2 separate regions of the Homo sapiens genome follow, and region 2 is linked to region 1. Evidence: fine-mapped expression QTL. A gene starts in region 1. The other region holds a variant in brackets. All regions are shown on one strand. Distances are between the middles of the regions. Region 1 holds the start of ROR2 (receptor tyrosine kinase like orphan receptor 2). Region 2 overlaps LOC105376148 (a long non-coding RNA gene).

What was found. PIP is the estimated chance that this variant, and not a neighbour inherited with it, causes the effect.
Region 2: its variant is fine-mapped to the expression of ROR2 in sigmoid colon (GTEx, PIP above 0.99).

What each region holds. Positions count from the first base shown.
Region 1 is chr9:91,948,874-91,951,778 of GRCh38, forward strand. ROR2 (receptor tyrosine kinase like orphan receptor 2) reads right to left here and starts at 1,355. Exons shown (of 9, transcript NM_004560.4): 1 at 994-1,355. The coding sequence starts at 1,090. RefSeq lists enhancers at 146-647, 648-1,147 and silencers at 1,341-1,520, 1,634-1,928.
Region 2 is chr9:91,978,268-91,981,172 of GRCh38, forward strand. All of the region lies in intron 1 of LOC105376148 (a long non-coding RNA gene), which reads right to left. Among named protein-coding and RNA genes, the nearest start is that of ROR2, 29 kb to the left of the region's middle. The variant A/T (reference allele first, on the strand shown) is at 1,122.

The sequences.
Region 1 (2,905 bases):
CGGCCCGAGGCGCGCGGGCGGGAGGTGCTCCCGGAGTCTGCACCGCCAGAGCTAACGCCGCCTCCTCCAGGCAACCTAGGCAGGTCCCAAGCTGCACTTCCGAACCTCCCCGCCGTTCCTCTGCGCCCCGGATCCAAGCAGCCGAAACCGCGCAGGGACTCGGGGGAAGTGGGGCCCCGGGAGGAAACCCACCTAGGAGCCGGGCCCCGCCCCTCCCGCCGCCAGCCTCCTACAGGTCCCGGGGGTCCCCCCGGCGCGGCCAGAAGGCGGCCGCGCCCCAGCCGCTCAGGGACCCGCGATCCCAGTCACAAACCATTTCAATCCAGATCACACACCACTTCGGCCACCCCAGAGCGGTGGGGGAGAGGAGGTTTCAGGGACCAACAAAAGGGATGCCAAAGAGCCCGTTTCCATCAAGCGGCCCGCGGGCTGGGAAAGTCAGGACCCGGGAGCCGCCGGCGCCCCCACCCCCGCCGCAAGAGCCGCTTCTCCGGGGCCACGTCCACCCCAGGATTCTGCCAGGCATCAGGCCGCCCTGGGGGTGGGGGGACGCTCCGAGACAGACGGGGGACACTCGGGGCCGTGTGCCCTTGAAGGAGGAAGACCTCGGGGAGGAAGCCCGGGTCCTGGGACCCTCGGGGCACATCTGCGGACTCGGGTCCCGGGCCCAGGGCGGGTACTCACATTCACACTCGCACTCCCACTCGCGACCCTCGGGAAGCGCCACCGAGAGGCTCCCAGCCGCCGCCGCCCGCCCCCAGACTCTGGAAACACTTAGGCGTCCCCAGAGCGCGGCTTATTGTAACCAGCCCGAGGGGGTCCGGGGTGCGGGCCGGGAGCGGCGTCGGGCGAGATGCGAATGGCCCTGCCTGGCGCCCCTCGTTCAGGAGCATGGGCGCCGGCGCAGCGGCCGGGAGCATAGTGGCGGCGGAAGGGCTGGCCAAGCGAGCCGTGAGCTACCGTCTGCGCACAAGCCGGAACGCCAGATCCTACCTGAAGTCCGGGACACTGAGAGCAGAAGCGCGGCGGCCGCCCAGACGGCCGGGATGCACAGCAGCGGCCGCCGCGGGAGCGCCGAGCCCCGGGCCATGCCGCAGGCAGTGGGGGCCGGGAAGCCCTCAGAGCTTCGGGCCGGGGCGCGGGGTCGGGCGCCACCACCCCTTTCTACGATGCGTCCGCTCCTCCTTCTCCCTGGCGCTTCGCAAACGGGTCCACTTCGAGGACCTCGTCGTCGTCCTCTTCTCCGGCCCGGATGCGCCGCTCGGCTCCGGCCACGGCAAGGGCTGGCTGGGGAGGTTCCTTGGCGCGGGCTGGGGCGTCCCGCCGGCCGCCAGGACGAGCGCGGGGGGCGGACCGCGGGCGAGCGCGCAGGAGGCAGGGTCCCCGCTCGCCCGCCCCGATGGGCAGAGCGAGGCTTGCGCCGGCGCCCCCTGCCGGGGGAACGCGCGGGCGGCGGGCGGGACCCAAGGAGCTGGGGCTGCAGCTGGGGCCCCGGACCTGCCTCCTGCGCCCGCCCTCGGGCCTGCGCCTCGGAACGCTTGAACACAAAGGTGGCGCCTTGGGGGCGTCAGCCGGAGTTCGGCGGGTCTGCCCACGCAGGAGAGGCGCCCAGAGCGGGTGCCCCCGACTTTCGGGGGCGACACACCCGGGGATCTAGGTCACAAATCAGTAACTCCAGGCTGCACTGCGCACCGGGACAAATCTGAGAGCCACCCAGCCCCAGACACCAGCGGTGAGGCAGGAAGAGGAGAAGCGAAAGTTGCAAAAGGAAATGTTCAGGAAAACAAACAGGCCGCCTTGGCACCGGCGCCCTCCCAGGTCGGTGGGGACAAGCGCGTCCCCCGAAATGCTCAAAACTGCCAGGGGTCGAGCTGCGTGGAGGGAGCCCTCGGGAGCGCGATGCTATCCGAAGCCACCGCGGCTTTTGGTTTACTGTTAAAAGCAAATTGTATAATTTTACCCATTAAAGGCAGAACACTATTTGTTCTCTGCAGAGGCCCAGAATGTGCAGAATTTGCTTCACTTATTAGAGACATTTTGAACGGAATTCAAATAGCATGTTTTCTTGCTTATTCTTGGTTTTGCTCAGCACATGCAAATGTCTTTGTTTTTCCTCTTAGAGGAAGGAATTGGATTCTCCAGCATCTCAGTTGCTTGTTCCATGAGATTGATCTTTTAACTGATTATCCAGCAGTTTGTTTGGTGTTTTTGCTGGAGTACCAAGCTCTGTTAATTGGAGGGCATTAGGGAGAGCCCTGGCCTTGGGTGCCAGACGTGAGGCCTCAGACGTGGCCAGAAATAAAAACTCTCTTGCTATGGTCTGCGGACAAAATGACTAAGCCAGCTCTAGCTTGTTACCTCTGTTAAAAGTATTTAGGCGTCCGGCTATCTCTACCCAATTTGTGTAGGGAAATATCTCACGCAGTTCTCATTCCCAGGAGCTGCTGTAAATCCAGTAGGAGAATGGGAGAAGATCCTAGCCCCTCCTCAACTGGATGGCAAAATTATTACCAAACTTCTTAGACGGGCTCAGGCTGTTCCTCTGCCCAGGCTGGTGCGGGTCTGAACGGGGGGGCTGCTCTCCCCAGTGGTTAGAGGACTGCCAGGGGTTTATCTTTGGGGTTTTCCTCCCTTTAGCTTCCCTTAGAATCCTTAAGGATGCTTTTAGAGTAATGTTTTAAGAGTAGGTGCTGAAGCACTTAGTTCCACACCCCTCTCTTCTGGATCTAGGGAAAACCCAACAGGGGCTGCAGAGAAGGGTCTTGAACCTGCCCTGGAAAACCCCTCCCTCAGCAATGCTGTGTCCTTTCCGTGGTGCTGTGCAGCTCGGAGAAGGTGGTCCCAGCACCTTTGCTTTCCACTTCACACAGCGTGAGCATGTGGCTCCAGAACCATTTCATCAGCA
Region 2 (2,905 bases), 29 kb after region 1:
AGCTAATTTTTTTGTATTTTTCAGCAGAGACAGGGTTTCACCATGTTGGCCAGGCTCGTCTTGAACTCCTGACCTCAGGTGATGCTCCCGCCTCAGCCTCCCACAGTGCTGGGATTACAGGCATGAGCCACCCCACCTGCCGGTCCCCTAGTCTTAGACCCTTGTGTGATGCCAGCCAGCAGCGTCGTCTTGCCATGCACAATCTTGCACCTCCCAGGACTGGTACCCATGCTGGGATCGGAGGTCCACCACCTCTCAGACACAAAGCCTGGCAGCGCTGGGACTGCTGTTATCCGCATCCTCCCTCAGAGCCAGAAACTCATTTATGTTCTCAAATACTGGATCAGTTATCTATTTCTATTAAACAAAGCATCCCAAAATGGAGTGGCCTATAATAGCAATGATTATTTATTTTTCATCATTCTGTGGGTTGGCTGGGTGGGTCCTCTGCCGGTTTCTCCTGGCTCACCCACAAGATCACATTTAGCTAGAGGGGCAGCTGGGCAAGTACGTACCCAACAGACTCACTCGCAGCTTCTAGCTCTGGGGTGGGACATCTGAGTCCTTCTCCATCCAACACAGGCTAGATATGGTGGTTTCTTGGTTCCACCAGGGAGAGAGCAAGAACTGCAAAGCCTCTTAACCCTGGAGCCAGCACTCTGTCCCTTCTGCCACCTTCTGTTGGCAAAAGCAAATTGCATGGCCAGCCCAAATTCATGGGATGGAGAAATAGACTCCGTATCTCAAAAGGGAGAGCCCACTGCCACTTGTCAGAGGAGCCTAGACTCAAGGAGATATGATTCCTCGTGGACCATGGCTGACAGTCTCCATAAATACCAAGAGCAGATCCCATCCTCTCTAGCAAAAAATGAGACTTTATTGCCTTGACCGAGTCCTGACCCTCAAAGCTCACTTGAAGGTAGCTGCTAAGTCACAGTGTCAGGATCCCTCACTGGAAGACTAAATGCATGCTTTCACTGCCTGTGCGTCTTTGCTCCATCCAGAAATGTGATGACTCATTCTTGGAGCATGAAGGTTTGTTGTGGGAAGTGTGCAGAAATGTTTTTCTTTACTTCCAGAATGACAAGCCAGGGGGAAAAAATGGAACAAATTTTTTTTTT[A/T]AAAAGTAATTTATTTGGAAACTGTGTTAAATTCAAAACAAGCTACCATTGGAAAGTCTGAGACCTACCTTTTTGGTAGTCTTTAAATGTAACACAGCAGTCTGGGCGCAGTGGCTCATGCCTATAATCCCAGCACTTTGGGAGGCCAAGGCAGGCAGATCACCTGAGGTCAGGAGTTTGAGACCAGCCTGGCCAACATAGTGAAACTCTGTCTCTACTAAAAATACAAAAATGAGCCGGTTGTGGTGGTAGGTACCTGTAATCCCAGCTACTCGGGCAGCTGAGGCAGGAGAATCGCTTCAACCCAGGAGACGAAGGTTGCAGTGAGCTGAGATTACGCCATTGCACTCCAGCCTGGGGACAAGAGCAAGACTTCATCTCAAAAAAAAAAAAAAAAAAAAAAAAAAAGTAACACAGCTAACCATCGGTCTTTATAGAGAATTTGGAGCATGGATCCTCAGGGCCAATCGGCTGGTTAAAGACTCACACACTGGAAGCAACCCAAGTATCTATCAGTGAATGAAGGGATAAGCAACATGTGATCTATCCATGCCCTGGAACATTGTTCAGCCTTAAAAGAAGAGAACTCTGACACACGCTACAACACGGAGGAACCTTGAGGACATCATGCTGAGTGAAGTAAGACAGTCATGAAAGGACAAATACTGTATGATTTTACTCATATGAGGTACTCAGACAAAATCATAGAGACAGAAAGTAGACTGATGGTTTCCAGAGGCTGGAGGAAGGGGACTGGGAGTTGGTGATTAATGGGAATGGAGTTTCCATTTTACAAGACAAAGAGTCTGGAGATCAATGGTGGTGATGGTTGCACAACAATGTGAATATTCGTCTTTTTTGGGGGTGGGGGCGGGCAGAGTCTCGCTCTGTCACCCAGGCTAGAGTGCAGTGGCATGATCTCGGCTCACTGCAAGCTCTGCCTTCTGGGTTCATGCCATTCTCCTGCCTCAGCCTCCCCAGTAGCTGGGACTACAGGCGCCCGCCACCACGCCCGGCTAATTTTTTGCATTATTTTTTTGGTAGAGATGGGGTTTCACTGTGCTAGCCAGGATGGACTCGATCCCCTGACCTCGTGATCTGCCTGCCTCGGCCTACAATGCGAATATTCTTAATACTACTGAGCTGTTCATTTAAAAATGGTTAAGATGTTTTGAAGATCCTTTTAAACCAATGTCTCAACTCACCTGGGCTGTTTTACCCCAAGGGTTCAGGGATAGCCCCCATCTATTTGGCCAGGCATTAGCCCAAGACTTGAGCCAGTTCTCATACATGGACACTCTTGTCCTTTGATACGTGGATGATTTACTTTTAGCCGCCTGTTCAGAAACCTGTACCATCAAGTCACCCAAGCGCTCTTAAATTTCCTTGCTGCCTGTGGCTACAAGATTTCCAAACGGAAGGCTCAGCTCTGCTCACAGCAGGTTAAATACTTAGGGCTAAAATTATCCAAAGGCACCAGGGCCCTCAGTGAGGAATGTATCCAGCCTATCATTGTTTGAATGGCTCTTCGGAATCTATGTGCTTCCTCTCATTCTTAGTGCCCCCTATGACCATCTACACTGAACAAGATTTATACAAGTATGTCATACCTAAGCCCCACAACAAAAGAGTACCCATTCTTCCTTTTGTTATCGGAGCAGGAGTACTAGGTGGACTAGGTACTGGCATTGGCAGTATTACAACCTCTACTCAGTTCTACTACAAACTATCTCAAGAACTAAATGGTGACATGGAACCGGTTGCCGACTCCCTGGTCACCTTGC